Regions from separate parts of the Homo sapiens genome. Here regions 1, 3 and 4 are each reported to be linked to region 2. Evidence: microRNA targets listed by miRTarBase, many of them from high-throughput screens and not tested one by one. Region 2 holds a microRNA gene; each other region holds the end of a gene's coding sequence.

Region 1 (7,613 bases), not on the chromosome of region 2:
GGGAGGCTGAGGCAGGAGAATCGCTTGAACCCAGGAGGTGGAGCTTGCAGTGAGCCAAGATTGTGCCACTGCACTCCAGCCTGGGCGACACAGGGAGACGCTGTCTCAAAAAATAATAATAAATAAATAAATATTACTAGGGAAAATTAGAACATCTTATGTTTCAAATAAATTATATACGTATAAGGCGGGTGGATCACCTGAGGTCAGGAGTTTGAAACCAGCCTGGCCAACATGGAGAGACCTCATCTCTACTAAAAATACAAAAATTAGCCAGGTGTGGTGGTACATGCCTGTAATCCCAGCTACTCGGGAGGCTGAGGCAGGAGAATTGCTTGAACCCAGGAGGCAGAGGTTGCAGTGAGCCGAGATGGCACCACTGCATTCCAGCCTAAGCAACAGGGGGAGACTGTGTCTCAAAAATTAAATTAATTAATAAAATAAATTATATACTTAACATTTTAACTGTCATTTTCTTTTCCCCACTATGTATGGCATATAGGAGACCGTGATGAAGATGACAGAAGCTTTTTGAATTTGTTCCATCTTGTACATGCTCAGGCTAACTTCCATAAGGAGGTCCTGTATTTGACCATGAATACTCCTCTGTCTACCTAAATCCTCAGAAAGCCTTGCCTTTAGAGAACGTCACTGAACGAATGATTAGAGGAGTGCTACTTTTTCACTCAAAAAATAGCATCCATGGGACTTTTTATCATCTAAGTAACCTAAGAATTCAAAAGCTGGATAGAATTTTAGAAGCAACTACGTACATCATTATTAATATAAAAATAACAGGCAGCCTCAAGAATGTGCTGAGATTTCTCTGGAAAACAAGCTCTGCCTCTCCGGGTTTTAGTCAACCTAACACCAAACCAAAATAGAATGTTAGCTGTTCAAGAATCTGGGACCAGCCAACCTGTATGTATGCATTTTTGAAGCAAGAGAAAATTCCATTTTATAGTTAGACCCAAATTCACTAAATAGTGTGTATGTTCACTTTGTTTAAGTTGTATAGACATAGCCCAGAATGTTTTGTGAAGATTTGCAATATGGTGTTTTGGAATGTGTAGAATACAAATCACAGTTTTTACTACCTTCTTGGCATATGCTTACAAAGAACATTATATTTTGTTCATGTTTTACATGAACTAATGGATAAAAAACAAAGTATACATATATGTCTATATATATATATAGACACACACACACAGACATATATTTCCTTCTTTAAGGTAATCATACAAAAGGTCTATACATACAGGAAGGTATATATTGTCTCAATGCAATCAAATCATCTTTTACTGGGGATTCAAATAAAATGTAGCAAATAAGAGAAAAATAAAATGAAAGAAAATAGCGATTCTGCTGCCAGAATAATCTTTACAAATAGTTTTTACTTCTTCCTAAAGCTTTTCTCCCTATCTTAAAAAGTGAGATTTGTCTGGGCACAGTGGCTCACACCTGTAATCCCAGCAATTTTGGAGGCTGAGGCAGGAGGATCCCTTGAGTCCAGGAGTTGGAGGCTGCAGTGAGTTATGATTGTACCATTGCACTCCAGCCTGGTGACAGAGTGAGACCCTGTTTCTAAACAAAACAAAACAAAACAAAACAAAAAAACAAGATTTGACAAAGGAAACTAAACGTATGGGTGGTTTACAGCAGCCCATGAGAGAGTGGGGTTCGGTTCTCTTCTCTCAAGTATATAGATTCCAAGAAGCTGCAGGACTGTTTCAGCCTGACTAGCATCTGCCACTCCTGCTTTTACTTTTACTATTAAAGTAGATAGTAACAGTACTTGACAGGGCTGAAATAATGCTGGAGTCCTCCTGGATCTCCCATCCCATTTTTTTCTCCTTGGGTTTGAGCACTTTACTTCTGAAGACACATTGCTTCCACCTGGACTTCTCAGAGGCTGGCCTTCTTTACCCAAGCTCTTGATTTAACTCACCTTTGGAGCTGATGAAGGAAAGAAACACTAGAAGATATGGAAAGTATCTGCAGAAGTAGGGGGTAAATTGTGGGAAATTCTCAAATGTTTGGTAAGAGGGACTCAGTGAGAGATGAATAGGACTGAGGAAGAGTGAAAATTGTGGAGAAAATACAAATTGTGAAAACAGGATTTTATTGTACTTCAGTAGTAAAGGCACTTACCTTCATTTCTGGAAGGTGAGAAGTTTAACTGTCTTTCTTAGATGGATTTTCCAACTGTAATTCCATTGGTGGCAGGAATTTTTTTCTCCAGTTTTTCATTAGCATATTTATGCAAAAACAAAGTTCTTGCTTTTATCCTGATTTCATTTTCTTCTTCTCAATGTAAGAATTCACCTTCAGTTGAATTATAAATGGAATTGAATTACAAAGATTAAAAGTTGGCAGATACCAGAGTATAAAATAATACCTTAGTTTTTTCATTTTCCCCTCTCTTTTTTCCTATACATGCTTGCAAAGCATAGATCTATCAAAACATTGATTATTCCAAGTTAAGAATATACCTCTTCAACTATCTGTGAGGGAAAGAAAAAATAAGGAAAAAAAAGTAAAATATTCAAATATAAATAGTGAATTTTTTTTTTTTTTGAGATGGAGTCTCACTCTGTTGCCCAGGCTGGAGTGCAGTGGTGTGATCTTGGCTCACTGCAACTTCTGCCTCTCTGCTTCATGCTATTCTCCTGCCTCAGCTTCCCCAGTAGCTGGGACTACAGGTGTGTGCCACCACACCCGGTTAATTTTTTTGTATCATTAGCAGAGACAGGGTTTTGCCATGTTGGCCAGGCTGGTCTCAAACTCCTGACCTCAGGTTATCCACCTGCCTCAGCCTCCCAAAGTGCTAGGATTACAGGTGTAAGTCACCATGCCCAGCAATAGTGAATATTTTTAATATTTTACTAAATGGATTCTAGATTTCATTTCCTTAGAGAAAGAAATTTGGCATTGTAAAGTTTCCTTGAATTCCTTGAATTATCCATCTCCACAGCAATTATTTTTAGCAAGTTTACAAAAGAAGCATGTAAAACATATTTGGTCTGGGTTTTGAATCTTCTTTATTCACTTGAACTGACATGACTGCTGCTGTAATTAAAAAAAAACCTCACATTATTTATTTCATTATTCTCAATAATTGTGAGATTATTATATCATCTTACCAAAAATTTGGAACATAAAAAGTTTGATTCATTCTTTGGGTGCAGGAAATAAACTGTGTCATTCTGCCACCAATAAAAAGCAAGCTGACAAATTGTCCATTCAATTGTTAAAACATACAAATAACATTTATGACCAAATTTGGAGTTTTTTCAATTCAGTGGTCCATTCTTTTTTGCCGAATACCTTTGTCATGAAGAATAAAGTGTAATGTCAAATTTTAAAGGGGAAATTAACTTTTAAAAGCATATGTTGTTATTACCATTATTATCAATGTTTAAGTGATGGTATAGGCAGTCATTGTCACAAAAAAAGAGCATTTGGAAAATGAATAGTTTAAAAACATTAGGAGACTGTCAATTTCTCACTAACTCTGGAACAGTCATAACAACATAACTATGTAAAGTACTAACAAGTCAGATAATTTAGCCTGTACTGTTTTTTAAAGTAGAAGATTGGCTGCTGGGCGCGGTGACTCATGCCTGTAATCCTAGCACTTTGGGAGGCCGAGGCGGCAGATCACAAGGTCAGGAGTTCGAGACAAGCCCGGCCAAGAGACCAGCCTGGCCAACATGGTGAAACCCTATCTCTACTAAAAATACAAAAATTAGCCCGGCATGGTGGCGGGCGCCTGTAATCCCAGCTAGTTGGGAGGCTGAGGCAGGAGAATTGCTTGAACCCAGGAGGCGGAGGTTACAGTGAGCTGAGATCACGCCATTGCACTCCAGCCTGGGCGACAGAGCAAGACTCCGACTCAAAAAAAAAAAAAAGATTGGCCTAAATTAGCAGACCTGGGGGCCCAGCTCCTTTTTCGTTTTTGTAATGCTTTCCTCAGCCTCCTTTGACTTTGATTTGTAGAATGATTTTTTACTCCCTGTAGAAGGCAAGTTCAATAACACATTATTATCTTTATCTTTATTATTATGTCTACAGACACCATGCACCATAATAGTACTAACAAACTAATGATGCTATCTTCCTTAGAAACTAATTGAAAATGTACAACTTGTGATAAGCTCTCTGTATCTTGTGAAACTATGAAACTTTAACACTTTTTTGGAGGACTCCTGCTCATGCCAATTATGAGATACCCAACAGAAGGTGCAGCTGGAAATACCATCTTATGTCAATGAATAACAAACACTAACCTCTTTGTGATTATTACTAAAAGGTTAACCTCCTTATGCAAATAGTACTCAAATGTATGATTACAGATTTTTATGTCAATAAATATTGTGAAGGGTAAAAATAAGGCTATTACAAAAGCCTCTTTGGTTATTGGATATCTTACTAACAACGTGACTTCTGTAGCACTTCCACTAGCAGGTAACTGTGAAACCTGTAAGAAATCAGGATATGGACATATGCTCCTTGGTTTTTGAGGCATTACTAAGCTAGGAAAGGTGACCTGAAAGATAGCTGCATTGAACAGTCTTCTCCAGGTTAAAAAAGAAAAAAAATTCCAAAGGACTAAGATTGCATTCTTTTCATCAAGAAAACAAATATATTGCATTTAAGGGCAAGATTGAAAAAAAAAAAAAGAAAAATATAACTCCAGAAAATTCCTCAAACTAGAGACTGAAAAAAGAACCCCACAAACCGCAACAATTTGGCCTTTGAAAGACTCTTAAATTAAAATAATAATAGTAATACTTGTAGACATTCTGAGATCACTGCTTTCTTAAAGGTGCGTATAACGAAAATATGCATTGCTATTTCAGAAGTATTCTTTTTATGGTAAATTTTCTTTGATACTAAATATTTGATATTTGCTAAATTTTGTTTATTTACTATATTAATAAAACTATGTTAAAATTGAAAACATTCCATCTTGTTCAGAGTTTGTCATTATGCAAGTCATTGAGCTTTTTGTGGGGGAACTTACCTTCATTTAAGCTGTTAATTATAGCTCTACCATGATCAAAAAAATGAAATGTCTTAATATAAATTAATATTGTAATTAGCTGTATATTTATGTATGTGTATACTTACACTTAATATTAACATATAAAATTAAATAATTTCATTTACTAGCAATAACTCATAAACAATAATCTATAGAACAGTATTCTGCACTGTTCTGCTATTTAATTCAGTGATTAAATCCGTAAGCAATGAATATTCCAATTGCTGCTAAACTAGAAATGCTACAATTATCATAGCTTAATATCAGTTTCAAAAAATAAAATATGTAATTAAATATTGTGGATTACCTGCAATTTCCCATGACTATAAGATCTTACAGTGTTTTTTTGAGACAGAGTCTGTCACCCACGCTGGAGTACAGTGGTGCGATCTTGTCGTACTGAAACCTCTGCCTCCCAGGTTTAAGCGATTCTCCTGCCTCAGCCTCCTGAGTAGCTGGGACCACAGGCACACACCACCACGCCTGGCTAATTTTTGTATTTTTAGTAGAGCTGGGGTTTCACTTTGTTGGAAAGGCCGGTCTCAAACTCCTGACTTCAGGTGATCTGCCCCACCTCGGCCACCCAAAGTGCTGAGATTATAGGCGTGAAGCACAGTGCCCGGCCTCTTACGGTGTTTGTTTTTTGTTTTGTTTGTTTTTTTGAGAGATAGTCTTGCTCTGCCGCCTGGCTGGAGTGCAATGGTGCAATCTCGGCTTACTGCAACCTCTGCCTCCTGGGTTTGAGCAATTCTTCTGCCTCAGCCTCCTGAGCAGCTGGGATTTACAGACACGTGCCACCATGCCCAGGTTTTTTTTTTTTTTTTTTTTTTTCTGTATTTTTAGTGTAGACAGGGTTTCACCATGTTGGCCAGGCTGGTCTCGAACTCCTGACCTCGTGATCCACCCAGCTCAGCCTCCCAAAGTGCTGGGATTACAGGCATGAGCCACTGCTCCCAGCCTGTGTTTTGTGTTTTGTTTTGTTTTGTTTTGTTAAGACCGAATCTCTCTCTGTCGTCCAGGCTGGAGTGCAGTGGCGCAATCTCGGCCCACTACAACCTCCACCTTCCGGGTTCAAGTGATGCTCCTGCCTCAGCCTCCTGAGTAGCTGGGATTACAGGCATGTGCCACCTTGCCCGGCTAATTTTGTATTTTCAGTAGAGATGGGGTTTCACCATGTTGGCCAGTCTGGTCTCCAACTCCTGACCTCAAGTGACCTACCTGCTTCGGCCTTCCAAAGTGCTGGGATTACAGACGTGAGCCACCACCACACCTGGCAGTCTCACAGTTTAAATTTTAAGTACAAAGATGTTCTTAAACATTTCTAATGTATCTGCCTTGGTGTGTTTGATTTTATAATGGAAGTTGTGTCAATGGCTTTTTCTGTTCCCCTGTTAATATATGACTTTGGTTTTATTTTTGTTTAAAATAGATGGGCACAAAACTGACTTAGAAGAGGCCACTCTACCGCCCATCGTCTGGGATGTGAGGAGCCCCTCTGCCTGGCTGCCCAGTCTGGAAAGTGAGGAGCGTCTCTGCCCGGCGGCCATCCCATCTAGGAAGTGAGGAGCGCCTCTTCCCGGCCGCCATCCCATCTAGGAAGTGAGGAGCGTCTCTGCCCGGCCGCCCATCGTCTGAGATGTGGGGAGCGCCTCTGCCCCGCCGCCCCGTCTGGGATGTGAGGAGCGCCTCTGCCCGGCCACGGCCCCGTCTGGGAGGTGAGGAGCGTCTCTGCCCAGCCGCCCCGTCTGAGAAGTGAGGAGACCCTCTGCCTGGCAACCGCCCCGTCTGAGAAGTGAGGAGCCCCTCCGCCCGGCAGCCGCCCCGTCAGAGAAGTGAGGAGCCCTTCCGCCCAGCAGCCACCCCGTCTGGGAAGTGAGGAGCGTCTCCGCCCGGCAGCCACCCCGTCCGGGAGGGAGGTGGGGGGGTCAGCCCCCCCGCCCGGCCAGCCGCCCCGTCCGGGAGGGAGGTGGGGGGGTCAGCCCCCCACCCGGCCAGCCGCCCCGTCCGGGAGGTGAGGGGCGCCTCTGCCCGGCCGCCCCTACTGGGAAGTGAGGAGCCCCTCTGCCTGGCCAGCCGCCCTGTCCGGGAGGGAGGTAGGGGGGGTCAACCCCCTGCCCGGCCAGCCGCCCCGTCCAGGAGGTGAGGGGCGCCTCTGCCCGGCCGCCCCTGCTGGGAAGTGAGGAGCCCCTCTGCCCGGCCACCACCCCGTCTGGGAGGTGTGCCCAGCGGCTCATTGAGAACGGGCCATGATGACAGTGGCGGTTTTGTGGAATAGAAAGGGGGGAAAGGTGGGGAAAAGATTGAGAAATCGTATGGTTGCCGTGTCTGTCTAGAAAGAGGTAGACATGGGAGACTTTTCATTTTGTTCTGTACTAAGAAAAATTCTTCTGCCTTGGGATCCTGTTGATCTGTGACCTTACCCCCAACCCTGTGCTCTCTGAAACATGTGCTGTGTCCACTCAGGGTTGAATGGATTAAGGGCGGTGCAAGATGTGCTTTGTTAAACAGATGCTTGAAGGCAGCATGCTCGTTAAGAGTCATCACCACTCCCTAATCTCAAGTA
Region 2 (4,000 bases):
CATGCCTCAGTTTCCCCATCTGTTAAGTGTGCTTGAAAGCAGTTAGGAGGGTTTCATGAGATTCCACCTGCATGGAAAACTATCATTGGCTGGCCAGAGTTTCTTGCCTCTGGGGATTAGTAATTAAGAAATTTCAGGCCGGGTGCGTAATCCCTGTAATCCCAACACCTTGGGACGCCGAGGCGGGCAGATCACCTGAGGTCGGGAGTTCCAGACCAGCCTGACCAACATGGAGAAACCCCGTCTCTACTAAAAATACAAAATTAGCCGGGCTTGGTGGTGCATGCCTATAATCCCAGCTACTCAGGAGGCTGAGGCAGGAGAATCACTTGAACCTGGGAGGTGGAGGTTGTGGTGAGCCAAGATCGTGCCATTGCACTCCAGCCTGGGCAACAAGAGTGAAACTCCATCCAAAAAAAAAAGAAAAGAAAAGAAAAAAAAGAAAAGAAATTTCAGCTGACACAGCTTCACACTCTTGGTTGGGTTCCCGTGGTGAATGATGAGGTCAGGTGATGACTGGGGATGACACCTGGCTGTTTCCTTGATTACATCTCCCGAGAGGCTGGGCTGTCTCCTGGCTGCCTTCGAAGGTGTGGGTTTTGGCCTGGGCCCCATCGCTCCGTCTCTAGCCATTGGGGAAGAGCCTCCCCACCAAGCCTCTTTCTCTCTCTTCCAGATATCGATGAGTGTCAGGATCCCGACACCTGCAGCCAGCTCTGCGTGAACCTGGAGGGTGGCTACAAGTGCCAGTGTGAGGAAGGCTTCCAGCTGGACCCCCACACGAAGGCCTGCAAGGCTGTGGGTGAGCACGGGAAGGCGGCGGGTGGGGGCGGCCTCACCCCTTGCAGGCAGCAGTGGTGGGGGAGTTTCATCCTCTGAACTTTGCACAGACTCATATCCCCTGACCGGGAGGCTGTTTGCTCCTGAGGGCTCTGGCAGGGGAGTCTGCCGCCCTGTTAGGACTTGGGCTTGCCAGGGGGATGCCTGCATATGTCCTAGTTTTTGGGAATATCCAGTTAACGGAACCCTCAGCCCTACTGGTGGAACAGGAACCGGCTTTCCTTTCAGGGACAACCTGGGGAGTGACTTCAAGGGGTTAAAGAAAAAAAATTAGCTGGGCATGGTGCCACACACCTGTGGTCCCAGCTACTCAGAAGGCTGAGGCGGGAGGATTGCTTGAGGGCAGGAGGATTGGTTGATCCTCCCACCTCAGCCTCCGGAGTAGCTGGGACCTCAGGTGCATGCCACTATGCCTGGCTAATTTTCTTTTTTCTTTTTTTTTTTTTTTCGAGACGGAGTCTCGCTCTGTTGCCCAGGCTGGAGTGCAGTGGCAGGATCTCGGCTCACTGCAAGCTCCGCCTCCCGGGTTCACGCCATTCTCCTGCCTCAGCCTCCCCAGTAGCTGGGACTACAGGAGCCCGCCACTGCACCAGGCCAATTTTTTTGTATTTTTAGTAGAGACGGGGTTTCACTGTGTTAGCCAGGATGGTCTCGATCTCCTGACTTCGTGATCCGCCCACCTCGGCCTTCCAAAGTGCTCGGATTACAGGCGTGAGCCACTGCGCCCAGCCGCTAATTTTCATATTTTTAGTAAAAACAGGGTTTCACCATGTTGGCCAGGCTAGTCTTGAACTCCTGAACCCAAGTGATCCTCCTGCCTTGGCCTCCCAAAGTGCTGGGATTACAGACACCACACCTGGCTATTATTATTTTTTAGAGACAGGGTGCTGCTCTATCTTCCAGCCTGTAGTGCAGTGCAGCCTCCATCATAGCTCGCTGCAGCCTTGACCTCCTGGGTTCACGTGATCGTCCCGCCTAAGCCTCTGGAGGAGCTGGGAGTACTGGCATGTGCCACCATGCCTGGTTAATTTTTTTTTTTTTTTTTTTGAGACAGAGTCTCATTCTGTCACCCAGGCTGGAGTGCGGTGGTGCGATCTTGGCTTACTGAAACCTCCACCTCCCAGGTTCCAGCAATTCTCCTGCCTCACCCTTCTGAGTAGCTGGGATTACAGGTTCCGGCTACCAAACCTGGCTAGTTTTTGTATGTTTAGTAGAGACAGGGTTTCACCATGTTGGTGAGGCTGGTCTCGATTCTCCCGCCTCAGCCTCCCAAAGTGCTGGGATTACAGGCTTGAGCCACCGTGCCTGGCTTTTTTTTTTTTTTTTTTTTTTGTGGCAATAAGGTCTCATTGTCTTGCCCAGGCTAGCCTTATGCTCCTAGCCTCAAGTGATCCTCCTCCCTCAGCCTCCCAAAGTGCTGGGATTACAGGTGGGCGCCACTGTGCCTGTTCCCGTTGGGAGGTCTTTTCCACCCTCTTTTTCTGGGTGCCTCCTCTGGCTCAGCCGCACCCTGCAGGATGACACAAGGGGATGGGGAGGCACTCTTGGTTCCATCGACGGGTCCCCTCTGACCCCCTGACCTCGCTCCCCGGACCCCCAGGCTCCATCGCCTACCTCTTCTTCACCAACCGGCACGAGGTCAGGAAGATGACGCTGGACCGGAGCGAGTACACCAGCCTCATCCCCAACCTGAGGAACGTGGTCGCTCTGGACACGGAGGTGGCCAGCAATAGAATCTACTGGTCTGACCTGTCCCAGAGAATGATCTGCAGGTGAGCGTCGCCCCTGCCTGCAGCCTTGGCCCGCAGGTGAGATGAGGGCTCCTGGCGCTGATGCCCTTCTCTCCTCCTGCCTCAGCACCCAGCTTGACAGAGCCCACGGCGTCTCTTCCTATGACACCGTCATCAGCAGAGACATCCAGGCCCCCGACGGGCTGGCTGTGGACTGGATCCACAGCAACATCTACTGGACCGACTCTGTCCTGGGCACTGTCTCTGTTGCGGATACCAAGGGCGTGAAGAGGAAAACGTTATTCAGGGAGAACGGCTCCAAGCCAAGGGCCATCGTGGTGGATCCTGTTCATGGGTGCGTATCCACGACGCTGAGGGCTGCAGAGGGAATGGAGGGAGCAGGAAGGAGCTTCAGGAACTGGTTAGTGGGCTGGGCATGGTGGCTCAAAGCACCTGTAATCCCAGCACTTTGGGAGGCCAAGGTGGGTGGATCATCAAGACCAGCCTGACCAACATGGTGAAACCTCGTCTCTACTAAAAATACAAAAATTAGCCGGGTGTGGTGGTGGGCACCTGTAATCCCAGCTGCTCGGGAGGCTGAGGCAGGAGAATCACTTGAACCTGGGAGATGGAGGTTGCAGTGAGCCAAGACAGCCCCACTGCACTCCAGCCTGGGTGACAGAGTGAGACTCCGTCTCAAAAAAAAAAAAAAAAACTAAACAAAAAACTGGTTAGTGGCTAGACAACAGGATGGTATCTTCCAAGCCCATGGCTGACTCAGCAGCTCCTGGGTCAAGACACTGTGACCTGTGTCCCCTGGCAGGAAGCATCGCCCCTGCCACCTGCCCGGTGTACTCTGTACCTGTCAGGTGACATCTGCTACCTAAGCACGTGAGAGGTGGCATTTCACAGTTTCAGTGTGGTGCTGACAACCCGGGACGCACACTGTCCTTGCAGCTACAATCAGGAGGTGAATGTTGGGTTTCCAGCAGAGAACACTGGAGAAGGCACACTTGGTGTCTGGAAGGGAAAAGCAGGGAAGAGAGCATCATCAGATGCCTGCGGGTGAAGGTGGGCCCGCTATGGCCAGCGTCCCTTTTTATTTTTATTTATTTATTTATTTGAGATGGAATCTCGCTCTGTCGCCCAGACTGTAGTGCAGTGGTGCGATCACGGCTCACTGCAAGCTCCGCCTCACAGGTTCACGCCATTCTCCTGCCTCAGCCTCCCGAGTAGCTGGGACTACAGGCACCCGCCACCACGCCCGGTTAATTTTTTGCATTTTTATTAGAGACGGGGTTTCACCGCGTTAGCCAGGATGGTCTAAATCTCCTGACCCTGTGATCCACCCGCCTCGGCCTCCCTAAGTGCTTGGATTACAAGCGTGAGCCACCACGCCCGGCCCCCTTTTTATTTTTTATTTTTTGAGA
Region 3 (7,640 bases), not on the chromosome of region 2:
CCCTGGTGGAGGCGGGGGCAGTTCAGCCCCTCACTCTGTTTGTCCTCACTGAACTGCCCTGGGTGGAGTCTGTCGAGGTTTAAAAAACGCTGTGGCATCAGCCTGCTGGGCTCCTCCTAGATAGACCCCCTTGCCTGAGCCAGGGGTTAAATAATTGTTCTAAATAACACCCTATGACACAGTGGGGCTAAGAGCCTTGTTGTCCTCTGGGTTTGGACGGCTTGTAAACATCGAATTCCTGGGAGGGAGGCTTCGGGTTGCTAGGAGACCAGCAGCAACAACGCGGTGGTTCATAGGCGAGCCTGCATAGAAAGTGCTTGCAGGACCGCCAGGGACCCGGCCAGTGGCAGCGTCCTCCCCCCAGTTCCTCACGCTGTCCGTGAGTTCCCTGCTCACACAGATACTCACACACGTGCCGCTGCGCAGGGAGGACGGGGCACACCCGCAGCACACAGATCCCTGCGTGCCATCATGGAGGTTTGGGACTTGGCATGAGGAATGAGGATCTCTCGTCTGTTTTCCAAGGAGACTGGCCCCATGGAACGCTGACTTCCCGAGTTTCTCTGGCATGGAGAGCTCAGGGCCAGCGTGGGGGTGTTGACCCTCACATCTGTTCGGTCCTCAGCCACGCCAGGCACCAAGGGTGTCCCATTAATGTGAGGGCTGCTCTGGGGTCAGGGTTTCCACCAAGGCTGCCCCCTTGCATGTTCTCCACGCATGACCCCGGTGACAGGAGGAGCAGTGTGGCCCAGGGGGACTGTGGGGTGTCCTTCCTGCTTCCTGCCCTGGGGGACCCTGAGGGCGTGGGCCCAGCAGGTCCTTACCTGCACATTGCTGCTCACAGGTTGCGCAGCTGCCCCTGTTTGTCAGTGACGGCAAGTGGCACCACATCTGTGTCACCTGGACGACACGGGATGGCATGTGGGAGGCATTCCAGGACGGAGAGAAGCTGGGCACTGGGGAGAACCTGGCCCCCTGGCACCCCATCAAGCCCGGGGGCGTGCTGATCCTTGGACAAGAGCAGGTGGGTGCAGGGCAGGTGCAGGTGGGCACAGGGTGGGTGCAGGATGGGCACAGGGTGGCCGTGCGCCCTTTCAGGGATGGTGCGAGGAGGGGCCAACTGAGCAGCACGAGGCCAGGCCTGCAGCTGTTCCTGCTCCCGGCCCCAGCTGTTGGCCCCTCAGACCTGGCCACAGTGTCCTGACAGCCAGGTCGGGGGAGTGAGAACCCCCGCAGCCTGGCCCTTGCTGTCCTGTGGTTAGAGGTTGGGCGTGGGGTCACGGCCTGCATGGCAGGGACCAGGTGGGTGTGTGGTTCAAACAGATTCCAAATAGAACCTGGCACAGAGGGGTGTGAGTGTCCCTGTGGTCATGGGTCATCTCGTGACACAGGCTCCAGCTTCCATCTGGGAGGAGGCTGTGTGAGGGACCCTCCTGGGATGCTCATGGTACCAACTCAGGATTGTGGGGCTGGTGTCTTCCAGGAGCCCCCTGCTCAGGGTCTTAACCCTGATACCCAGCAAGGGGCACTTAGGTAATCCATAGTGGGTGCTCAGCCTGTGGGGGAGACAGGGATGAAAGGGTGGCACCTCAAAGTGCCCTCAAGAAACTTACCATCTAGGGGAGGGAATGGCTAAGTTGGCTGTCTGGTCTAGGACAGATAAGTGTTGGCATTCCAGTCTGTATTTGGGTTTTTGATGATGGACAGTGGGGCGTAGACTCCAGGTGCACTGGGGGGCTTTGAGTCTGGTTCCTTCTTGGCCCACTCCTCCCTCAATTTCCCCTGCTACATCTCCGCTGGGAGGGGCTGGGAGTCATGAGACCTGGCTCTGATCCTGGCTTTGGGACTTTGAGCAGTGTCTTCCCTTACCAGCCTCAGTTTCCCCTGTATAAAATGGGGAGATTTGAGCGATGCCACCTCCCAGTTCTGACATGCCTGGGAGCTTCAGAACCTACAGAAACAGGTAGTGTTGGTCAGAGCTGGGGGGCATCAGAGAAATGCCCAAATCTCCTGTCTGCAGCCCGTGTGCAGGGGGACTTGTGAACCAGCCCTGACGCAGCTCTCTTGTTCCCATTCCCCAGGACACCGTGGGGGGTAGGTTTGATGCCACTCAGGCATTTGTCGGGGAGCTCAGCCAGTTCAACATATGGGACCGCGTCCTTCGCGCACAAGAAATTGTCAACATCGCCAACTGCTCCACAAACATGCCGGGCAACATCATCCCGTGGGTGGACAATAACGTCGATGTGTTCGGAGGGGCCTCCAAGTGGCCCGTGGAGACGTGTGAGGAGCGTCTCCTTGACTTGTAGCCGCCTTCTCCTCTGTCCAGGAGGCCGGGATCAGGCTGTTGCCATGGAAGTTCAGGGCCATAGACTGCCCCACTTAAACTCTTGTCAGTCTGGGCTCAGGGTTCCCAGAGCTCATTCCCCAGGAATCTCTAAGACCAGGGCTGGGGCAGTGTCTGTCACTGGCTTGTTTGTTCCCTACCAATATTCTGTTGCTGTTTGAAGTAGTGCCAGGGTCCCCTGGGAAGATGCCCCCAAGACACCTGCCCCAAGTGGGTGGATATCTGCCTTCCTGCTGCAAGTGGAGGCAGGTCCAGCAGCCCCTCTTCAGAGCCCCTGTAAATGCTATCGCAGCCTGAGTCCTGCCGCCTTCCAGTTCCTTGGTGTCCCGTGCACCCCTTCTGTCTGTCCCCTTTCATGGCTGTGCAGCCGTCCCGCTGGAGTGGCCATGTCCCTTGTGCATTGAGTGCATCCCCGCTGGTGACTAAGCTCGCAGCAAGCGGCTACCCCCCGATCTGCAAAAGGGCCTCTCCCTTTGTGTTCTATACATTGTGAATCTTCCCGTCTGAAGAACGCCCAGCCTGCCCAGACAAAGCCCCGCCTTCCCCAAAGCAGAGGGGCTGTCTGTGTCTCCAGAAAGGGGACATCGGGGGGGAGGGGGGCTCAGAAAGGAGAAGGGCTGTGATCTCCGGTCCCTTCCCCCATCATCCTTCCTTAGACTGATGCTTTGACTGAATCATCACTAGCTATGGCATTAAAAGGCCTCTCTTCTCATCTGGTGCCAAAGGTTCCGTTGCAGCTTTTTACAACCATCCGGTGTGGTTTGGAGGATTTGTTTTTTTTTTTTCCCAACAGAAAAGAACAGCCATTAGAAGAAGGCTCCCATTTTCTGATGTTCCGCCCCACTGTGAAGAGTGTGCTCGTTTTAAATTCATGTTGATTCTTGTAAGCACTGGACTGTCTTCATCAAGTATTTCCCTACAGAACTCCTCAAGAAAACAGAGATCATTTGGCTAGAGATTGTCTGAGTGACTCCAAGCTACTCACTGTATTGGACGGGAGTAGTAATTTATTTTAAAGATAAAGTGACTAAGTGGGGAAATTTATAAAGCTAAATATTATATATTTTATTTTTCATACATGTTTGAAGTGCAAATCTGTGGATATTCCATTTGTAGGACCAAGTCGACATGCCCATCCTGACATTGTATGCTACGAGAACTCTTCTGATGATGGAATTTCGATTAAAGTGCACTGAAAGATGCTTCTGTGTTTGTCTTCCTCATGTTCTGGGGCTGAAGGTGGGAAGGGGTAGGGCTTTGCAACTTCTGGCAGAAGGATGATGTCTCTGGTTTGCCGCAGCCTGCTTCTGGTGGGTTTGGGGGCGCTGAGGATGGTTAGAGGAGGGTGTGGTCCAGCTGTCCATCCTTCCTATTTCAATGCCTGGCTCAGGCTGTGGGTGCCTGGCAGGCTCTGCCCAGGCTCCTTGTCCCCAGCTCACCCCTGTCTTCTCAACCAGGAGAGCCAGCTTAGCTAGAAGACCTGCGGCCGCCTTCCAGGTGTGGTACCTGCTTAGCGTCTACTCTGTGTAGGTGTTCTTTAGACATCTCATTGAATCCTCCCTGAATGAGCTAATCCCATTTTACAGGTGAATACACAACAATTAAAGCTATTTTGGGATCATGCAGCCGATAGAGGATAGAGCTGGGCTCAAAGCCGTCCTGTGGCTCTGAGGGCTCTGTCCCTTCCACTGCTCACTCCAAGGGGCCCAGTGCCATTGTGTCCTCCCAGATCCGCCTCTCTGTGCTCACCTGGCCCTGGCTGGTGCGTTGATGGTCTCACAAGCATTAGATCCCCCCCACCGCCCACCACCACCACCTCTTTCCACTTTTGTCGTTTTACTCTGTCTTGGTAGCTGCAGAATGTAACTTAGTTTGTCCCTTTTCCAAGTAGCAATGTCAATTTCTATTATAATTGCGGCCTTTTCCAAGTAGCAATGTCAATTTCTATTATAATTGCGGAGCAGAGCCTAATCTTGGAGCCAACTGACAACTTATGCCAGATGTACTTGATACCAAGGCTGAAATGGAAGCCATAACCTCTAAAACCAAGACCGGCAGGTCACAGAGGTTCCTGGAGTCCATTTTTGATGTTGTGAAGTATAACTTGGCAAGAACTAAATACCACTGGTGTTGGGTAGAACATGAAATGAGGCCAGATATCCTGCTCAGGGACCTTTGAAACTCAAAAGTGCTGAGACCAGGCGGAGAGCAGTTTGTTTTGAATCTCCTTCATGCTGGAAACACCAGCTACTCAGATCTCCCCCTGAAAGGTGCTGAGGGGTTTCCTCACTTCATATGCATGCCAGGTGCTGAGCCAGCCCAACTTTTTTCCCAGGCACTGCCTCCCACAAGAGCATCGCTTTGCATCAGGGCTTTGGAAACGCTGCTGAGCCAGATAACTTCCTCCCTGCAACTGGAAGAGCTTTGAGCCCACAACATGGGATCAAACTGCTCCTTGCTGATCTGACCTGAAGATGAGAGAACCACCTCTCCATATCATAGCCGCACACCAGTCCTCCTGTTGGCAGTTTGGTCCTCCTGACATACAAGCAGAAACAAGAATCATTTATGCAATCCAGCAAGTTCCTTATGCCTTGATCCTCCCATGTGAAGGAGACCTGTGGCCTCAGTTTCCCCCACTCAAGACTCTTTTTGTATGTTTGTTTGAGACGGAGTCTCGCTCTGTCGCCCAGGCTGGAGTGCAGTGGTGCGATCTCGGCTCACTGCAACCTCCACCTCCCAGGTTCACGCCATTCTCCTGCCTCAGCCTCCCGAGTAGCTGGGACTACAGGTGCCCGCCACCACGCCCAACTAATTTTTTGTATTTTTAGTAGAGATGGGGTTTCACCATGTTAGCCAGGATGGTCTCGATCTCCTGACCTTGTGATCCGTCCATCTCGGCCTCCCAAAGTGCTGAGATTACAGGCGTGAGCCACTGCGCCCAGCCTCAAGACTTATTTTTTGTACAAGGCTGGAAAGATACTGATAGCAAACTGGGTTCTCCAAGAAGGGTGGGGTAGAGATTGTCCTGGATGATGGAATATTCAGGTTGCTTAAGGGTTGTCATGGAAACGGTAGCCAAATGATCAATGATTAATGAATTGAAAAGTAATAAAATGCAGCTAAATCAAAGGCAGGCTGGGACCAGGTCTCCACCAATAGGAAAGGCAGACCAAGATCCTGCCCAGCCTCTGGGGGCTTTGACATCAGCTCTCCTTATACAGAAGCTCTCAGAAAGAAAAGATGACTTCCTTTTGAGCACAGATGTTATCATTTATTCTGTCAACAAATATCTGGCGCACCTACTTTGTGTCAGCAACTATTCCAGGCACTCGAGATGTAATGGTGAGCAACATAGCAAAGTTCTCCTTTTAAATGGAGATTAATTTCAGTGGGAAGTGTAGATAGAAGGCAAATATATAAACAAGAAAAATGCTGGTGATGTGTTAGGGAGTCACTGGGGAACTACTTTCTGGGGTCACCTTTAAGCTGGGACCTAAATGAAGAGAGGGAACCAATCTTGGGTGGAACCTCACAGACAGAGGGAACAGGAAGTGTGAAGGCCCTAAGGTAGAGCTGAGCTTGGATGTTCAAGAGAAGAAATAGCCAGGTTGGCTGCATTCACAGGAGAGGAGAGGAGTGGATGGGATGAAGAGATTGTAGGATCAGATGACAAAGAGCCTGTGTTGAGATCTCAATGAAATGGGAAGCCTGGAGGTTTTAAGGAGAGGAGTGTGATAATGTGATTAATATTGTAAGCCCACTACTCTTCCTGGTGGATGGAGAATAAACTGTAGAGCATTGTAAAGGGAAATAGAGAAGACTCGTGAGGAGGTTACTGTACTAGTCCAGGTAAGAGGTCATGATGGCTTGGACTAGGGAAGTAGCAGAGGAGACAGAAAAAAAGTGGAAGAATTTAGGATATACTTAGAAGTAGTCATCCTGACTTGTTGATATTTGGAATTTGGGGAGAGAAATAAAATACAATTTTTAAAAACCTAAACTCCAAGTAGGATAAACTGAGAGAGATTCACACCCAGAAATATTACAAACTGTTGAAAACCAAGTAAAGACAGACAATTTTGAAAGCAGCAAGAGAGAAGAGATTCAAGATGTACAAGGAATCCTCAATAAAATTTATAGCTGAATTCTCGTCAGAATCTATGGATGCCAGAAGGCAGAGAGATGACACATTCAAAGTGCTGAAAGAAAAAGACTGTCAACCAAGAATCCTATATTTGACAAAGCTATCCTTCAAAAATGAAGGCAAAATTAAGACATTCCAAATAAACAAAAACTGACAATTTAACACTAGTAGATCCGCTCTACAAAAAAATACCAACGGGAGTCCTTCAGGCCAAAGCGAAAGGATACTAGACGGTAACTCAAATCTACTTGAAAAAATAAAGAGCACTGTTAGAGGTAGCTATATATGTAATTATAAAAGTGTAAGTGTATTTTTTTGTTTATAACTCTTTCCTTCTTTTATCTGATTTAAAAGACAACTGTAAGCTGGGCGTGGTGGCTCACGCCTGTAATCCCAACACTTTGGGAGGCCGAGGTGGACATATCACGAGGTTAGGAATTCAAGACCAGCCTGACCAACATGGGGAAACCCTGTCTCTACTAAAAAACACAAAAATTAGCCAGATGTGGTGGCGCACGCCTATAATCCCAGCTACTTGGGAGGCTGAGGCAGGAGAATTGGTTGAGTCCAGGAGGCAGAGGTTGCAGTGAGCCGAGATCGCCGAGATCACGCCACTGCACTCCAGCCTGGGTGACAGAGTGAGATTCCATCTCAAAAAAAAAAAAAAAAAGACAACTGCATAAAGCAATAATTATAAATTTGCATTGATGGGCATAAATGTATAAAGACGCAATTTGTACAACAATAACAGAACAAAAAAGTGGAGAGGGGATGGAGCTATGTAAAAACAAATTTTTTGTTACTATTATAATGAAGTTGGTGTTAATCTAGATTCAATCATTATAAATTAAGATGTTAATTGTACCTCAGGCAACTACTAAGAAAAGAACTTGAAAGAATGTATTAAAAGAAACAAGGGAATTAAAATACTACACCACAAAATGCTCATTTAACATGAAAGAAGGCAGTAATGGGAAATAAGGGAACACAAAACACATTAATTAGACAAATAAAAAATAGCAAAATAGCAGATATAGACCCTACTTTTATCAGTAATCACATTAAATGTAAAGGTATTAAACACTCCAATTAAAAGGCAGAACAGGGTTTCACCACTTTTGGCCAAGCTGGTCTCTAACTCCTGAC
Region 4 (7,167 bases), not on the chromosome of region 2:
TATTAACTAGAAGTATCCAAAGTCGGGCTTGCCCAGCTGCTGATCACTCTCTCTCCAGTCCTTAACTGTATCATGGGTGTGCAGTCCGATCCTTTTGTTTGCTGAAAAGTCGTACAGTAGGTAGTGTGTGTGTGTGACTCCTAGGATAGAAGAGGTAACAGGCTGACAAGATTCGCTGCAGTGGGGGCCACCCCGTCAGGGAGTAATCTCTGGGTGTGGAGAGTGCAGAAATTGGCAAGTACACAGGAAGAGCAAAGATTTTCTCAAATCATACAGTCAACGAAAGCATTGCAGTCACAGCATTCTGAGACTCTGCTCTTAAGAGCAAGGAGGGCTGATGCTGAAAGCAGGTTGCTTCCAACTCCCTCTGTTAAAGGCATCTCTCCAACTCGGCAGGTATTTTTCTCAGCCTACATCTTCAATAGCAACGTCATGGTGAAGGTGGCCACTCAGCCGGCTGACAATCCCCTTGACGTTCTATCCCGGAAGCTCCACCTGGGGCCCAATGTTGGGCGTGATGTTCCTCGCCTGTCTCTGCCTGGAAAACTGGTCTTCCCAAGGTAAGACCTCATGCTATGACAGGACCACACTGTCTTCCTGTGCCTATCTGTTCCCGGCCTTGATCAGTCTCTAATGTCATCAGCATTCTGATCCCAACCTGGGGCCATTATCTCCATGCTGCAGAAGAGGAAATGAGGATGAGATTCTTGGCTTGCCAAGAAGGATCACTGAGTGATCCAGGCGGTGCCTTTTATTATTGATTAATGTCAGCAAACAGCCATGCCTTACTGCTGTTTCCACTGTTTAGAGTTGGCTGGAGGGAGTTAGGAGAATCTCGATCCTTTTAACTTGTAAGATATTTATAAAAATAAGTTCTAATGGTAGAATTATACAACTCCTGGTAATATAATCTTGGCAGAATGAATGTGCTGCTTTAATCTTCCACCTGTAATAGTAGCCAGGTGCTTATTTGAAGTCTCAACAGTGAATGTGTCACAAATGATGAATTGTTTGACATTTCTAGAGGAAGCAGCACTTATGCAAATCACTTCAGCAGTCACTTCCAAGGGGCTCTCCTGAAACAGGGGGGCCAAGGTGGAGACCTCTAGTGCCAGTACTGTTGCAGCTTTTTCTCTCTACACTCTTAAAACTAATGTTCCATCAGAAGAGATTTCCATCTGCCATGCAGATAAGCTCTTTGACTCCTTAAAAAGCTAACAAACTTTGCACAAAAGGAATAGAAACTGGATTGTAGAGTGTGACGTCACTAACCTGTGAAACTGCATTCCAGCTCCACTGGCAGCCACTTCTCCATGTTGGGCATCGGAGACATCGTTATGCCTGGTCTCCTACTATGCTTTGTCCTTCGCTATGACAACTACAAAAAGCAAGCCAGTGGGGACTCCTGTGGGGCCCCTGGACCTGCCAACATCTCCGGGCGCATGCAGAAGGTCTCCTACTTTCACTGCACCCTCATCGGATACTTTGTAGGTAAGAGAACCAGAGAGACTGCAGATGATCCTCGCTCTGGCTGTCCTCCAACCTTTGGAATTAAATCAGGTCTTCTAGCTACAGTTACTGGATGGAAGGAGAGCAGGAATTCTGGGTGCTGTAATAGACAGCCTGGCCCGTGAGATGCTAAGTGTTTTGTGTACTGGATAGGCCAGTTCCCTCTCCAGCTGTGTATCTGAAGAACGTTGTAGGAAAAGCAGGTCAGTCCTCAAAGCCAAGGACACACAGCACACAGTGCAGTGGATTAGTCTGTGCTTAAATCTTCCTCTAGAGTTGAATGACTGTCGTATTTATTTCCTACTTTATTCAATAGATACTTACTTACATTCATTAGTTCTACATTTCTGCCACTCTGACCTAGGCCAAGTTTTGTAGCCAGCTCATGTGTAGGCAGACAGGAGATGATTGTGATGGGGCTGGGAAAAGCAGTAACCTGCCCGCACATGCAACTGCTCCCGCACAGTGACTGGAAAGGAGCTTTTGCACTCCGTACGTCCTCCTCAACCCCAGCACTGTCCTCGTCCCACAGCAGTTCATTCACATGGGTTCATTTCAGTCCACAAACTCAGAGGGGCAAGGCAAGTGGCATTATCCCCATTAGACAGATGAGCAAGCTGAGGCTCAGAGAGGTGGAAGGTCTGAACTACATTTATGTTAGCTATTGTGAGTAGCAGAGTTGGAACTTGAACCCAGGTCTTCTGCCTCCCAAGTCCAGCATCACAGGAGACAGAGGCACACTTGGAGCTGGAAGGAGGGTTTGAACCCAGGAACCTGAGCAAGGAGTGAGACTTGGGTCAGTCATGTGTCCTTGGAGTTGTAGGTGTTTTTTAAAGCTGTGCTGATCCACATTTCTTCAACTGCCCAAGCTGGGCATTTCACACCCCAACCATAGAATGGACGACAGCACATTAGATCTGTACAGTTGCAGGACTTTGCCCAGCAGCAGCCAGGTGACACGGGTTCCCTCTCGTGTCTCACAGATGCCTCTCTCTCCTCACAGGCCTGCTCACTGCTACTGTGGCGTCTCGCATTCACCGGGCCGCCCAGCCCGCCCTTCTCTATTTGGTGCCATTTACTTTATTGCCACTCCTCACGATGGCCTATTTAAAGGTGAGAGCAGCAGTTATAAACCTGTGAAAGCAATAACTTGGATTGGCCTGTGCCTCGGTTTGCACTCTCCTCGCTGGAGGTGATTCTGCTTAAGCCCCTGAGTGAGCTTGTGATCTCGACTGTGTGTGTGTGTGTGTGTGTGTGTGTGTGTGTGTGTGTGTGCGCGCGCGCGCTACCCTGGCGTTAGCAAACGCTTCCAGATTCGTGCAGCCACTGACAGAAAATGCTGATGAGCTAGACCACTACACCACCTGGTCGAGGAATAACTAATTGAAAGCCCCAGAGCCCAGCTGAGGGTACTTCCTGCTTCTGTTCAAAGCAGTGCCCTCCTGCCACCTAACAGCTTAACACTACGTTAAAGTTTGGGAATAATTAAGATTGAATAGTGTTGAGGCAGCATATGATAAAACCAGAGTTCAAGAGCACATTATTTCCCAGATATCTATTCTCAGCCCCGTTTTACAGATGAGGAAGCAGATACAGAGGTCAACTTACTTGCCCAGCTCACTTGACTCACTACCTCTAGAGAGTTGATAAAAGCCCTTTTCTTGCTCAGGGAGCCTAAAAGCACCCCTTCTAGGGAGTCCTCCTAAAAATAGTGGGTTATTTTTGAATGGGTAAGATTTAAATGCTCTTTGGTTTCCCACAGAAGCAATCTGATCTCAGATCAAGCATCAGAAAGGGGCCAGGGGCATGGTGGCTCACGCCTGTAACCCCCGCACCTTGGGAGGCTGAGGCAGGCGGGTTAAGAGTTCAGGACCAGCCTGGCCAATATGGTGAAACCCTGTCTCTACTAAAAACACAAAAATGAACTGGGCATGGTGGTGAGTGCCTGTAATCCCAGCTACTCAGGAAGCTGAGGCAAGAGAATCGCTTGAACCCAGGAGTCGGAGGTTGCAGTGAGCTGAGATCTCGCCACTGCACTCACTCCAGCCTAGGTGACAGAGTGAGAACCCATCTCAAAAAAAAAAAATATCAGAAAGGGGCCAAGCGCAGCAGCTCATGCCTGTAATCCTAGCACTTTGGAAGGTCGAGGCAGGAGAATTGCCCGAGCCCAGGAGTTTGAGACCAGCCTGGCCAATATATAGGAAGACTTCATACCTGGAAAAAAAATTTTTTTTTTTTAAAGAATCAGACAGCTGTGTGTGCCTCATGTTTAAATCTGTAACTTAGAAAGTCCCTTGTTTCCCAGGGCGACCTCCGGCGGATGTGGTCTGAGCCTTTCCACTCCAAGTCCAGCAGCTCCCGATTCCTGGAAGTATGATGGATCACGTGGAAAGTGACCAGATGGCCGTCATAGTCCTTTTCTCTCAACTCATGGTTTGTTTCCTCTTAGAGCTGGCCTGGTACTCAGAAATGTACCTGTGTTTAAGGAACTGCCGTGTGACTGGATTTGGCATTTAAAGGGAGCTCGTTTGCAGGAGAGAGGTGCTGGAGCCCTGTTTGGTTCCTTCTCTTCCTGCGGATGTAGAGGTGGGGCCCCTTCCAAGAGGGACAGGCCTCTCCCCAGCGCGCCTTCCTCCCACGTTTTTATGGATCTGCACCAGACTGTTACCTTCTGGGGGAGATGGAGATTTGACTGTTTAAAAACTGAAAACAGCGAGGAGTCTTTCTAGAACTTTTGAACACTAAAAGGATGAAAAAAATTAGCAAACCGAAGTTTCTTCAATGACCCCTCGAGAACTTTGGGACCAGTTTCCTATAGGGGACTCAGTTTCAGAGAACTGAGACAGAAGCTCTTCTGTCGTTATATTCTTCTTTCCTTTTTTTGGATTTATTAAATATTTTCTGTGGTGTGAAGTGACTTATTAAATCCACAGACATTGAGTGACTTCTTACAACATCCACATAAGAATTTGTTGTAATGAGTTCATGTCCACCCAGATGTTGTGTTGGCAGTGAACAAGGGCACGGTTTTTATACATACGTACATATATATATATAAACACACACATAGATATATATGAATAAACAAAAATGAAATCCTGCTAAGATCACGCTGTGTAGCTGACAGGGGCTTGCTGTCGTTTTGAGCATGTCGAGCAGTTTACTGTGGCTTCCTTGTATATGGATAAGCTGCTGTCCTTCCCCTTCACAACTGACCCCGCAGTTACAAACTAGTATAGCATTTGTGCTGATTGATGATAGACTCATGGACTTCAGGAGCCCTTACTTGGTTTTGATCAGTGTAGCAAATTAGGGATGAAGAGTTCAAACCTTTTGGCCCTTTCTTTCTTTTCTAGGCTTCTCCCTCGCAGGGTGTTCCGTAGTTTCTTCTCGAGCCAATGCATGTATTATAGCAGCAGGTGTCTTTGTGCTTTCTCATCATAGTAACGTACTACTTGTAAATACATTTTTCTATTTTCTATTTTTTTGTATTTTTTTTTTTGACATTTTGTTTCATTGGTGTGCTGTATATTTTCCATGCCCTCACTCCTTTAAGAAAAAAAAAAAGGAAAAAAGCAACACAATCCTGTCCTTGCTGTTGTGATTATAGTCTTGGTTTACCTGTGGTGACAACCGGGTGTTGGGGACACATGTCAAATGCCCCTCTGAGATGGGCCCTAAATTCCAGTAACTGGGGAAAGAACCAGCTGCTGTGTCCTGAGAGCCTGGCCCTGTGCTGTGGTCTCTGCTGCAAGCCCAGATTTCTGGGAGTAACTAGTGTTAGGTCTGCTGACCTTTACCTAAGCAGCCCCTGCCTGGTAAGAAGGTGCCCATTGTTCAGAGGCAAAGAGAAGCCTGCGGTTGGCATGAGGATGCCTGACAACAAAGGCTGGAGAAGGGCCCTGAGTTCCAGCCTCTCCCCAAGGGTCCCCGCCCCAGTGGCTGCCTCTGTCTTGACCTGTGTAATGAATTAGTGTGCTGTGTCACTGTGGCTTGAAGTCACTGTGGATCGAGCTCACAGGGGGCACCCATCCTGTTGTCAACAGAGTCTGAAGCAGTCAGGGTGTTGGATTCCTCTGTTGTTGTCATCAATTCCTGCTGAGGGGTTTCTGGGGTTTTGTTTTTAATAAATGACTCCTTTGTAGCCTTTGTCACATAATCTTCACTTTGGTTGTTGGTACCAAACAGAGCTCCCAGCCATCTCCTCCCTGTTCTGGAAGACTGATGGGAAGACTCTGTCTGTCCCCAGACCTGGTCATCTGCAGCTCTGGCCCAGTCATAGATACATCAAAGAACTGAAGCTTCTGCTGTCCACAGAACTCAAAACTGCCTCTGCATTGGGTGAAGACTAAAAATCCACTTGCGGACTCTCCCTTCCTTCCTTCTCAGCCCTCGAGGATGCATATAGCTAATTAAGCAGGCCCAGAGACAGAGAGGGGGGCTCCAAAATGACTCGGATTAAGGGCAAGTGCCAGTGATGGGTAGAAATAACGTTATCCTTCATGCCTGTAATCCCAGCACTTTGGGAGGCCGAGGCAGGTGGATCACAAGGTTGGGAGCTCGAGACCAGCCTGGCCAACATGGTGAAACCCCGTCTCTACTAAAAACACAAAAATTAGCTGGGCATGGTGGCAGGCGCCTGTAATCCCAGCTATTTGGGAGGCTGAGGCAGAAGAATCGCTTGAACCTGGAAGGCGGAGGTTGCAGTGAGCAGAGATTGCGCCACTGCACTCAAGTCTGGGCGACAGGGTGAGACTCCATCTCAAAAAAAAAAAAAAAAAGGAAATGTTATCCTGGCAGTGGGTCATTTTAATTTTTCTGTCTTTGTTTTCATAAGAAAATTAAATTCCAGACAGAAGGAACGTCGTTATTTTGTCATTCTCACTTCTGTGCAGGTTTTGGGGGGAAATACCCACACAGGGCTGTGAATGCACCCTGGATTCCAGTTGCTAATCTTCAAAGCCCTTAAAACACTCCCTTAAAACTTTGGCAGAGAAACAGCAAATACTCTACTCGTCTCGGAGGGTTGAGTGGGTGGCTGCAGTTAAAGCACACATTAGACTTCCCTTCCAGTGCTCGTTTGCTCCCCGCTGCCTGATACACTTAGGTCCGCCTCTTATTCTGTTTTCTCAAATACCATGGTTTAGGGGTTTTCTAGGAAGTCTGCTGCATTAGGCATGGCATGCTCATGAAATTTCAGCAGATTCCTTCCTCACTGATCTGAAGTCCTTTTTCCTCACAAAGAGACTGTGTGTTACTAGAACTCCCGCTTTTTAATAACTCTTTTTTCTAGTTTGAGCTAATGAAGATATGACAGTAAAGTCTGTCCAAAGCCTAGTGTGTTCCATTGCTGTTATTACAGTGCATACGCTTTCTGAATGTGACAGTGACAGCTCCCCGCATAGGAACGGTTCGGTGGCTTGGGACTAAGCTACTGTCTGAATTACTTTTGTAGCAGGCTCACAGGCCTTGGGTAAACAGGTAAGTTAGGTCACCCACAAGAAAAACAAAAGTACTCGTTCTCTGTGAGGGTGGAGGGGAAGGGAGTTCCATTTTGCCAATCAAGTGTTAAAAATAGAACCTGCTGTGTCTGCTTAGCAGCTCTCACGTTACTGCTCACCAGATCCCATGTTGTGTGTACGTTTCTGTTTTGTAAAG

What was found. Region 2 holds the annotated microRNA hsa-miR-6886-3p (UGCCCUUCUCUCCUCCUGCCU, at 2,674-2,694, shown strand). A microRNA usually pairs through its seed, bases 2 to 8, with sites in the 3' UTR of a target mRNA and lowers its output. Matches are read on the target gene's strand: a 7mer-m8 pairs with bases 2 to 8, a 7mer-A1 pairs with bases 2 to 7 and ends in A, and an 8mer does both.
Region 1: the mRNA of FBXO47 is a reported target of hsa-miR-6886-3p. The part of its 3' UTR that is shown has no 7-base or 8-base seed match.
Region 3: the mRNA of NPTX2 is a reported target of hsa-miR-6886-3p. Seed matches in the 3' UTR shown: 7mer-m8 at 2,959-2,965.
Region 4: miRTarBase lists SPPL3 as a target of hsa-miR-6886-3p. Seed matches in the 3' UTR shown: 7mer-A1 at 4,527-4,533, 7mer-m8 at 5,404-5,410 and 7mer-A1 at 5,970-5,976.

Annotation. Positions count from the first base shown.
Region 1 is chr17:38,930,180-38,937,792 of GRCh38, reverse strand. FBXO47 (F-box protein 47) reads left to right here. Exons shown (of 11, transcript NM_001008777.3): 11 at 503-1,361. The coding sequence ends at 618. Among named protein-coding and RNA genes, the nearest start is that of LASP1NB, 8.4 kb to the right of the region's middle. RefSeq lists enhancers at 7,008-7,554, 7,555-7,613.
Region 2 is chr19:11,110,838-11,114,837 of GRCh38, forward strand. MIR6886 (microRNA 6886) reads left to right here and starts at 2,637; the gene lies at 2,637-2,697. It overlaps LDLR (low density lipoprotein receptor), which reads left to right. Exons shown (of 18, transcript NM_000527.5): 8 at 677-802; 9 at 2,441-2,612; 10 at 2,698-2,925.
Region 3 is chr7:98,626,321-98,633,960 of GRCh38, forward strand. It overlaps NPTX2 (neuronal pentraxin 2), which reads left to right. Exons shown (of 5, transcript NM_002523.3): 4 at 845-1,024; 5 at 2,082-3,549. The coding sequence ends at 2,309. Among named protein-coding and RNA genes, the nearest start is that of NPTX2, 13 kb to the left of the region's middle. RefSeq lists enhancers at 16-522, 2,611-3,224.
Region 4 is chr12:120,761,718-120,768,884 of GRCh38, reverse strand. It overlaps SPPL3 (signal peptide peptidase like 3), which reads left to right. Exons shown (of 11, transcript NM_139015.5): 8 at 397-560; 9 at 1,292-1,491; 10 at 2,513-2,622; 11 at 3,815-6,375. The coding sequence ends at 3,886. Among named protein-coding and RNA genes, the nearest start is that of ACADS, 39 kb to the right of the region's middle. RefSeq lists a silencer at 5,624-5,787.